Regions from separate parts of the Homo sapiens genome. Here region 2 is linked to region 1. Evidence: fine-mapped expression QTL. A gene starts in region 1. The other region holds a variant in brackets. All regions are shown on one strand. Distances are between the middles of the regions. Region 1 holds the start of SAMD15 (sterile alpha motif domain containing 15). Region 2 has its middle 36 kb from the start of NRXN3.

The links. PIP is the estimated chance that this variant, and not a neighbour inherited with it, causes the effect. A credible set is the group of variants that fine-mapping cannot tell apart.
Region 2: its variant is the best candidate, but not a certain one, in a credible set for the expression of SAMD15 in testis (GTEx, PIP 0.81).

The regions. Positions count from the first base shown.
Region 1 is chr14:77,375,010-77,380,385 of GRCh38, reverse strand. It overlaps SAMD15 (sterile alpha motif domain containing 15), which reads right to left and starts at 3,007. Exons shown (of 3, transcript NM_001010860.4): 1 at 1,279-3,007; 2 at 1-3. The coding sequence starts at 2,967. It overlaps TMED8 (transmembrane p24 trafficking protein family member 8), which reads left to right and starts at 3,292. Exons shown (of 6, transcript NM_213601.3): 1 at 3,292-3,450. The coding sequence starts at 3,333. RefSeq lists an enhancer at 3,025-3,234 and a silencer at 3,285-3,714.
Region 2 is chr14:78,131,626-78,137,001 of GRCh38, reverse strand. No RefSeq gene overlaps it. Among named protein-coding and RNA genes, the nearest start is that of NRXN3, 36 kb to the left of the region's middle. The variant AC/C (reference allele first, on the strand shown) is at 2,984.

The DNA of each region.
Region 1 (5,376 bases):
CTCCTGTCAATACAACAAGGACATCACTTAAAAAATGTACTGCAAATAGAAGGAAGAAAGGGAGGGAAGGGGGAGGAAGGGAAGAAGTCGTGTTTGTTCTACCCTGAGAAAAAAATATTATTTTGTTTTTTCTTTTTTAGAGACAGGGTCTCACTCTGTCATCCAGGCGGGAGTGCAGTGCTGCAGTCATAGATCACTGCAGCCTCGAACTCCTGGACTCAAGCAGTCCTCCTGCCCCAGCCTCCTGAGTAGCTTAAATTTACTTTCTATCCCAATAACGGCACAATTTTTCCATGTAAGCTCTTTATTAAATTTTACACTGCTCTTTAACTGTTTTTTTGGGCATGGTACAACCAGTGCTTCTTCATGTCTCAATTACATTTGTAAGTATAGTAGGTACAAAAGGTTTCAGATCTTGTATTGTTTTGTGGTAGCCTTAAACCTAGTTGGCATCAGTGAAACAAGAGGTTTACACTGACTTTTTACTAAAACTAGTTTTGGTTAACTGGCTAACTTGAATTAATACACTTAAGTGCTCATGATACAGGTGACATATTTGGGGCAGACACTTTAAAAAGTAATAGCACAAGTTCAAAGCAAGGGAGCTGCCACTAAAATAACTTGACAAAGTACCAAAAAGCCTACCTTGAACAAAGTCTACTTAAAAATACAGTTTTCTATGAAAGGAGGTCTAAGGCCGGGCACGGTGGCTCACGCCTGTAATCCCAGCACTTTGGGAGGCTGAGGCTGGCGGATCACGAGGTCAGGAGATGGAGACCATCCTGGCTAACACAGTGAAACCCCGTCTCTACTAAAAATACAAAAAATTAGCCGCGCATGGTGGCGGGCGCCTGTAGTCCCAGTCCCAGCTACTCAGGAGGTTGAGGCAGGAGAATGGCGTGAACCTGGGGAAGGTGGAGCTTGCAGTGAGCCGAGATCGTGCCACTGCACTCCAACCTTGGCAAGAGCGAGATTGTGTCTCAAAAAAAAAAAAAGAAAGGAGGTCTATATACTCTTCTTGGTCTTTTATTCAAGGATTGCAGAGAAGTGTAATCACTGGAAGAGGAAAAACAAACCGATGTGACCCTCCCTTCCTCTCCCAAAATACAAATATACATCAGTGGCAAGGCCAAAATTAAAATCCAAGTTACCTCTACCACAGTCTAGGACTTTTTGATACTCCTTCCGGTAAAGAGGTAAGAGCTCAGGCCAAGTTAGAAGGAATAAGAAGTAGACGGATGACAGCATGTGATTTCAAAACATCTTATTTTTGTATACCTTGTATTGAGGGAAGCCTAGCTGGCTAATCCACTCTGCAACTTCCTCTGGATCCCAATTAAGATGCTCAAATTGTAACTCAGTCCCTTTTTCTGGCTGGGTTTCGTCATCTTCAGAGACCCGTTCCTTCAACTCTTGGGACAAATCTACAACTTCCTTTTCATGAACGAACTCACTTAATTCTGTCTGAGACTCTGAGGGATCTGAGTATGAGCATTCTTCACTGACATTAAGCAATTTTTGGAGTGGTTGCAAAAACTCATAATGTGTACCAATTGATTCTTCACTTTCTCTGAGAGATCCTAATGCGTAATATTCTTTTCTAAATTTGTCACTTAGTGACAACTTTCCTCTTTTAGGCTCACGGTGCTCTAGCTCATCGTTTCCTACAGAATACTTAGACTTTATTGGTTCTGGCCTGTCTTCCTTGGAAAATTCTACATGTGTCTCCCTTGGTTTGGTTTCATCTGGTAACTCTAGAATTTTCTCAGTTGGCTTTGTTTGTGTTTTCTCTTCAACTTGTGGGTTGATCTCCTGTGGTAGCACTGGACCAGTCTCCTCTGGTGGCTGTGGATTTTTTTTCTCATTTGACTTTCTTATCTCTTCTGGACTTTCTGGTTTCATCATTTCTGATTGTTCTAGAATTGTTTCCTCATTTGTTTTTCTTGATTCTTCCTCAGGAAACTCTAATTTGATCTCTTCTAGTGGCTCAGGAACGTTCTCATCAGTAGACTTTCTTGGCTTGTGGTCTGGAAAGTCTGGTTTAGTCCGCTCAGGTAGTTCTGTCCCTTTCTCCTCAGTTGCCTTTCTTTGCATCTCCTCTGGAACCTCTGGTTGAGTCTCTTCTGGAGGCTCTAGACCTGCCTCCTCACTAGACTTTCTTGGTTCCTTCTCCAGAAATTCCAGTCTAGCCTGCTCGGGTGGCTCTGTCCTTTTCTTCTCAGTTGACTCTCTTTGTGTCTCCTCTGGAGTCTCTGGTTTGGTCATCTTTGGTGGCTGAAGATCTGTCTCTTCAAGTGATTCTCCTAGTTTCTCACTTGGAAAATCTTGTTTGGTCTGCTCTGGAGGCTCTAGACCTGTCTCTTCATGTTGCACTCTAAGTGATTCCTCTGGAACCCCCGGTTCAGTCTCCTCCTCTAGTAATTCTAAATTTCTCTCTCTGACTGTGGCCCCCGAAACCTCAGACATGGTTTCCGTTGGTGGCACTGGATCTGGATCTGTTTCCATAGCTGACTCTAGGAACACATCCTCTGTAACATTTGGTTTAGCCTCCTCTGGTGGCTCTAGGTCTGACTCTTTATGCGTTTCATCCATAGGGGCCTCCAAATCTTTGAAAAACTCTCCCATCTCTCTGGATGTTTCCGACTTTACCTCTTGGTGTATCCCTGGTTCAGTTTCGCTTGGTACGTCTCTCTTGGACTCCTTGGCAATTCCTTCCTGGGACGTCCCGCCAGGTTTCAGCTGCACGTTCTTAGCACTGTCTGGCTCCCCCTCTTTGAAGTCCTCTTCCTCGGTCTCTGGCTGTGGCTCTTGGTAAATCTCTGCTGGTAGCTTCGAGTCTGCCTTTGCCATGGTGTCTGGTTCGGCATTTTCATACAATTTATGAAGTCCAGGCAGTTCAGGCCTCTCAGGCTCCAGCTCTCCATCTTCATCTGGGCCGGAATCATAATCCTCCGGGACTTCAGCCATTTGCAGCTTAGCAGACGCGCCGCGGCTTCCTAGCAACCCCAACTTCCGATAGCGTCTCTATGGATACCACGATTTCCGGCAGTGTCTTCCTGACTCTTCCCCAGGTTTTGTTTGTTCTTTCAAGCCCTGACTTTAAAAATCGTCTGTCACAAGCACGCAGTAACCCTCCCTGCGGCCTCATCGCCAGCCTCAGCGGGCCAGAGCTCCTGTGGCCGCCCCTGGGTCAGCTAGCTTTTCAAGCGGCCGCCGCGCCGCTTCTTCCGGCCTGCAGGCTGCGCTCGGCTGTGCTCGGCGCTCGCTCGGCCTTCGGCTGTTTCCGGAGCCACTCGCGGCTGGCAGCGGAGAGCTCCGTGCGCGGGCTGCAGATGTCTGACCTGCAGGCGGCTGAGGGGCCGGGCTCCTGGAGCCCCACAGCCCGCCCAGGGTCGGCTGGCGGCGTCGGGGACTGCCAGGGAGTGGAGGGGAGCCAGGCGGCCGCCTCAGGTACGCAAGGCCGGGGCGCTGGCGGGTGGGTGCCGCCCGGCCTCAGGGCCCCGCACCACGGCGCGAGCCTCCGCCGCGCTCTGTCCTGGGCTTCCCCGCGGAGCGGACCCACCTCGGCAGCCCCTTCGCGCGCGGGGCCCCTTCCCCGCCGCTGCCACCACCCGGGCCCTGGGCTCGAGGTTATTTTCTACTCACTCCTGTTTCGAAATGCCTTGATTCCTGCCCCGCTTCCTTTCTGAGATCTGCCCAAATGGTAGTGACAGGGTGGCTCTGCCCCTGGCGCCTCTTCAGCTTCAGTTTCAGCTTCAGCCGGGGTTCGGGTCCCACCTCCGTCTGCTAATCACATCTAGACTGCCGACCCGAACCCTACTGGCCTCGCCGCCCCCTGCTTCTGGCTCCCCACCCTATCCCCATCTCAGTCCCCTGCCCCAGCCTTACCACGCGCCTCTCGGCCCCCACCCGGGTTGGCAGCCTTGCCTTCCTCTGCCAGAAGCCCACTGCGCCCTAGCCTTCCTGCACATAGGCCCCCTGGCCTTGCTGCCATCCTCTCCATCGCTTAGAGTGGGAAAAATGAAAAGCAGAGTTGAAATAGGTAGTGTCTGGGGTCTTTTGCTTGAACACAGTAGCCAAAGCAAGAGCAGGAATTAAAAATTTGGCCTACCTCCCTCATTCTCAAGACCCTCATCCTCTTCTTGTCCAGGACGACGTCTCCATTTCTACTAACGCGAGTTCCTCCGTGTGTATTATTTCAGTGTCCAAAGACAAAAGAGTCCATCCATCACACTTTCTTCTTTCAGCCTCCTGAACACCACACACGATGCAACTGAAAGGATGCTCTTTTGAAATACGAAAGGGTAGAGGGGAGAGAACTTGTCTTATTTAAGTAGCAAATATAAATTAATTTTCTAGGTCTGAAATTAAAATAGACACCATAAAGTATAATGGTTGAGGCACTACTGTGGAGCCAGGGTGCCTGGATTGGAGTCTGAAACGTCAGTTTCCTCATCTGTAAAATGTGATTACTAAAAATATCTGCCTCATAGGATTATTGTGAGGATTACTTGAGCTGCTTTGTCTAAGGCATTTGGGGTATAGTCCATGGTACACACTATACTCGTCTCAACCATTGTGACAGTAAGGTCTCTTTTTGTTCAGTTGAACTTCCTGTGCCGCCAGAGGTGTTCTTGGATGTATGGCTTCCAACATGGTGCCTTTTTCTGTCTTCTACTCTGATCCCAAGTATCTTCCCTCTCATAATGCTGCCTTATTCAAACACACACACAACTCACCCAGCTCTTTCCCATGATTTTATATTCTTTTACTTTAAAACACCTGACAAATTTTGCCTTTTTTTCTTACGAACTCTGCTTTGTATTAAATTAAAAATCGTTGGCATATATTTAACATAGCAGTAGAAATTCTAAGCATAATGTCTAAAAGACTAAGCAAGTAAACACAGAAAGGTAAGTCTTATAACACTTGTCCCTTGCATGCGCCAGTATTTACAAATTAAGCATGTTTTTACTTCCCCTTTAGGTTCTCATGTGTTTATGGCAAACGTACCCACGCGTTTTAGATAGATGAGTGTGTTTTTTTTTCCCCCTGACATCTAATTCATTCCTGCATTCACTTCCTCCCAGGACATTGGTAGAGATGCTTACTTTCCTTCCTCTTACCCTCAGAATGCAGGGTGATAATTTTTTTTTTTAATGTCATGTAGGGGTTTATTATAGTAGCCCAGAGCAAGCTCTTCCTCTTGAGGTAGGATTTGTTGCTAATAAAATAATAGTAATGATAACCTACAGATATTGAATGCTTATTCTGTGCCAGAGGTGGAAAAAAATTTATATTTTCTGATTTAGTCATGTCAACAATCATTTTCTTCCCATTTTACAGAGGAACAAACTACAGCTGAGAAAGGTTAAC
Region 2 (5,376 bases), 760 kb before region 1:
GAACTAGCAGAGCAGGCCTGAGGGAAAGTGGGGTGATAGAATTCCACTAGAAGTAGCTGGCTCACGTCTCCACCTAAAACAGCAGGCCCACACTTTCTCCTGGTGTAATAGGATGTCTTATGTGGGAGGAGTACAGACAGGACGCCTGTGGGACTCTCAATCTGCCAAAGCATGGAGCAGCTCCACTGAGAGTTGTATCAAAACCCCATGTTCTGTCAAGAGAAAATAAGAGAAGGTAAAAAGGCTTGATAAATGAAAATTTTAGATCATTGTTTAAAAAGGCCTGCAAATGTCCAGTATGACCCACAGTGCCCAGCACTATGGGGTAGGAGCCTCCAGGCAGTAGCAATACATGCAGACAGATGATTTGGTGTGGTTTCAGGTGGGTAATCCATTTGTGGGTAAGACCCGGGCAAACTGAGAAGTACAAGGGGAAGGGTGCCACCTCTTGGGGCAAAAGGTTGAAGTTCATGAGAACTGTGCAGTAAACCCCTCCTCTTGCATCTCTAGTATGGTTTCTCCTTCTTCACTTCCATCCCCAACACTTCAGTAACTTAGTAACTCAATATTACACAATCATCCCTCAGTAACAGTGAAGGATTGGTTCCAGGACCACCCCCATGGACACCAGAATCCTCAGGTGCTCCCTTATATAATTACTTAGTATTTGGATATAACCTACACACATCCTCTTGTACACTTTAAATCATCTCTAGAGTACTTATAATACCTAATATGATACCTACACATCATTTCATTTGTTTGATTCAACATAGTACTAGGCACACAGCAAGTTTAAGTTTTGCTTTTTGGAACTTTGTGTAACTTTTTTCAACTGGATATTTTTGATTGAATACACAGATGCGGAACCCACAGATATGGAGGACTGATTGTACTTTATAAAGAACTATGCAGAAATACTGGAATGTCCTTAATGTAAGCTCCACAAGGGAGGCGACTTGTGCCTGTTCATTGCTCTATCTCCAGCAAACAACACAGCATCTGAAACATAAAAGGTGTTCAATAATACTCATTGAATGAATGAGTGTACTTGGCAGGCTGCTGATACTAGATCCCAAGAAAGAAAAAGGGACTCTGGCTACAATGGAGAAAGTGAAGCATTTCACAGGAAAAGGCTGGGCTGGTGTAGGTGGGGAGGGGAGTGTTGATGGGCACGTAGAAACAGCCACTTCCTCTTTGGCAACAGACAAAACTCTCTATGAAAATATTTACTATGGAGGGGATTGATGGGGTAGTCAGAGGTGACTTTCAACCAATACACATTAGTTCAGCTGTACTGGTTGTTTATAGCTGAATGGTCAGCGTCATTGTTATACCGGTTATTAAATACTTAGAATATCACCCTAGAAAGAGTGCATAGTATACTCTCTAGTCTGGAAAGCATGACCCCTGGGCATGGGCATGACTAAGCATGCAGGGGAAAGCCACCGGATCAAAAGAAGAATCAAGACAGCCACAGCCAAGACTCATAAGATAAGACTTAGGTTCTGTGACTCATGCCTGGATACTTTTTTCAGCAGCCATACCCTTTGGGGACCCGGGATAAATTAAACAAAGACCAAAGTAATCCAAATTCCACAACTTAAAAAAATTTTATTAATATCACATTCCACCATGAGGACCAAAATTTAAATGCTTGTACCTGGTCCTAAAATAGGCATTCTGAATAAGGCTTATATGAGGGGGGAAAAATACCCCTTCTCCTACTTTGCCATCATGATCTTTGTCCTCAATTTGTGGATGTTTATCCCAAGAAGTCCCCATCTACTTTGAATCTCCAGATTCAAGCTCATTCATTTATTCTTGCATTCAAATAATGTGCTTTGAGCTTATACTCCATGCCAGGCACTGAAGTTACAGCAATAAACCAAAAAGAAATGATCCTTTCATTCTGAGAGTGTATAGTCTATTAAGAAAGAAAGATAATAAGCAAATAAACAAATAAGATGGGTCTTTTAGACGGTACTAAGTGCCATAAAGAAAATAAAACAGGGCAATAAGGTAGACAGCAACCATGGAAGAGGGAGAAGCTTTAGAGAGAGTGGCAGGTAAGTATATTTTGAGCTCAGACTTGGATGAGATAAGATAGCAAACCCAGCAGATATTTGAAGAAAGAGTATTTAGAACTTAAAAACACATGAAGGCAAAGGCCCTAAAGGTTAGAATTTGCTTGGTGTTTTCAAGAAATTAAAAGAAGTCCAGTGTCACTTGAGCATAGTGAGCAAGGGGAACCCTGATTGGAAAAGAAGTGGGACAGGAGGGCAGGGGCTGCTTCGAGGAGGGGTCGGAAGCCATAGCTGGGAGTTAGCCCAGTCATCAAAGTTTAATGGAGAGCCAGAGGATTTTAGGTAAATGAGTGACATCACCTGACTTACATGTTTAAAACTCATGCTTGTGTGGCTAAGGTGGACACAGAAGACGTCAGGAGCCAGGAAGAACAGGAGTCTGTTACAGGACTCCGGGCAAGAGATATTGGTGGCTTAGGTGGTAAGGATGGAAAGAAGAGGAAACCCACCCTCCTTGGGGGTTCTTAGCACCTTGGAAGAGTTTTAGTCCCTTCCCTGTGTCCACATCAAAAGGTAGTAATGATAATAACAAGAGCAGCAGCTCTGAGCAGTAACTGTATGCCAGATACTGTCCTCATAACATCCTTTTCACATGCAATCTCATTTCATCTTCTCAATGAATCCATGAGAAAGGTTGTTAGGGACTGAGCTGTGATTCCCCAAAATCCATATTTTGAAGCTCTGCTCCCAATGTTACTATATTTAAAGACAGGACCTTTAAGGAGGTGGTTAAGATTAAACGAGATCATATGAGTAGGGTCCTAATACAACGGGATTGGTGTCCTTATAAAAAGAGCAAGAGAGGACGGCATGGTGGCTCACGCCTGCAATCTTTGGGAGGCCAAAGCGGATCACCTAGGTCAAGAGTTCAAAACCAGCCTGGCCACCATGGTGAA[AC/C]CCCATCTCTACTAAAAATACAAAATCAGCCCGGTGTGGTGCAGGCGCCTGTAATCCCAGCTACTCAGGAGGCTGAGGCAGGAGAATCACTTGAACCCAGGAAGCAGAGGATGCAGAGAGCCAAGATCGTGCCATTCCACTCCAGCCTGGGTGACAGAGCAAAAACTCTGTTACAAAAAAAAAAAAAAGGAGAAGACGACGAAGACGAAGAAGAAGAAGAAAGAAGAGGAAGAGAAAACAGCTCTCTCTCCCTCTATGTTCATACAGAGGAAAGGCCAGGAAAGGACACAGAGAGAAGATGGCCTGCAAGCCAACAAGCGAGGCCTCAGGAGAAACCAAACTTGATGACACCTTGGTCTTGGACTTCTAGCCTCCAGAACTGTAAGAAAATGACTTATGTTGTTTAAGCCACCCAATCTATGGTATTTTGTTAGGGCAGCCTGAGCACACTAATAAAAAGGTACCTGCATCAAATAGCATGTAGAGGCTGGGCGCAGTGGCTCACACCTGTAATCCCAGCACTTTGGGAGGCTGAGGCAGGTGGATCACAAGGTCAGGAGATTGAGACCATCCTGGCTAACACGGTGGAAACCCCATCTCTACTAAAAATACAAAAAACTAGCCGGGCATGGTGGCGGTTGCCTGTAGTCCCAGCTACTCGGGAGGCTGAGGCAGGAGAATGGTGTGAACCCGGGAGGCACAGATGTTGCAGTGAGCGGAGATCGCGCCACAGCACTCCAGCCTCAGCGACAGAGCGAGACGCTGTCTCAAAAAAAAAAAAAAAAAAAAAAATAGCATGTAGAACAGGGTCCTCCTGGTTAGACTTCCTGAGTTCAAACCCCAGCTTCACACTTCATAGCTTACCTACTTCCTTGGCTTCTGTTTTGTTTTATTGCTTTTTAGCTTTATTGAGGTGTAACTGACAAATAAAAATTACATATATTTAAGGTACACAACTTGATGTTTGATATATAATGTGAAATAATCACCATGCTCAAGCTAATTAACATCTATCACCTCCCATTGTATTTTATATATGAACGATGAAAACACTTGCAAATTTCAAGAATACAGCAAAGTTTTGTTAACTATCATCACCATATTGTACATTGAATCTCCAGAATTTGTTTTTTATAACTGAAACTTTGTACCCTTTAACCAATATCTCTGCATCTCCCCTGCCTTAGCTTCTTAACCATGATGCTCTATTGCTTGTCTAATGAACAGCAAATGACTCCAATGAATATAAATTATGTCAAAATTATATTAACCCTATATACCACCCAGTTGAAGATGAATATAAAATATCCTCAGCCTAAAAACCAGGTGATCTATCAGCAAGTAGCTCTGTTTAATGGAAAAGTAATGAGGGGCAGGCAGAGGATAGTATTTAATACTGGAGCTCAGTGAGGAAAAAGCTGTTCCCCCAAAAGCTTTGACTCCAAATACTTGGCAGCTAAATAAAAAATCTGTAAGACCTCCCTCCTTTCAACCTCATTCTGATTGAAGCCACCCTCAATAGGTTCCATCAGGCACACGGAAGCATAGAATGTTAGCCCAGGGAGAAACAATGGAGTTTCTATCTTGTCCAGGCCCTTATCTTGACAAGTGAGGAGATGGAGGTGCAGAATGATCAAGTGACTGCAGAAATTTACAGTTAGTGGGGCCACTGTTATGGAATTGTCCAACTGTTGCTTTAATAAATTCCATTTTTAAATCTCTCTGAAAGCCGTCTGTATATTTTAGCAGAACAGCATGTCCCGCCTCAGACATGGCTGAAGTTCAGGCTGATCTAATGAGCAAAAAAGCTTGAAGGAAACCTTCCTGGGGCTGCTTCTGGCCATTATTTTAATCCTTTTTTCAAGGACATGCAGCCCATACCACAGCCAGGTGGGTGGGAGCAACTCCTCCGGAGCAATTCAGCCACTGGAAGAGATGGGGCATGGTGCTCCCAGCAGATTTTTTTAAAATAAATGCTCATTTCCTTTCACATTTTGCAAGAGGACCATTTAGTGACACAAATTTTTTTCCCATTCACATTCAGCTGCCTACAGGCATGTGACTTCATGACTTTCTACAGATGCTTCCAGGCACTGATCACGCCAGCTCTTTGTCACTGATACACTCCTGCCATTGAGCTGAAGTTAGCAGGAGGATGGAGGTGGCATTTTTCCCTTGAAAGGCTGAGAAAATCCCTCGCCCCCACATCCAATCAGCCTCTGGAGTCTGCCATTTCTTCCTTCCCAATGTCTCTCGCATCTGTTTCTCCCCTCCCCTCCCACTGTCACTGCTCTGGTTCAAGACTCGATCACTTTCTGCCTGGGCTGCTGCAACAGCCTCCTCCTGCCCTTCCCACCTCTGGATTTTCCCTCTGGATCCACCCAGGATACCA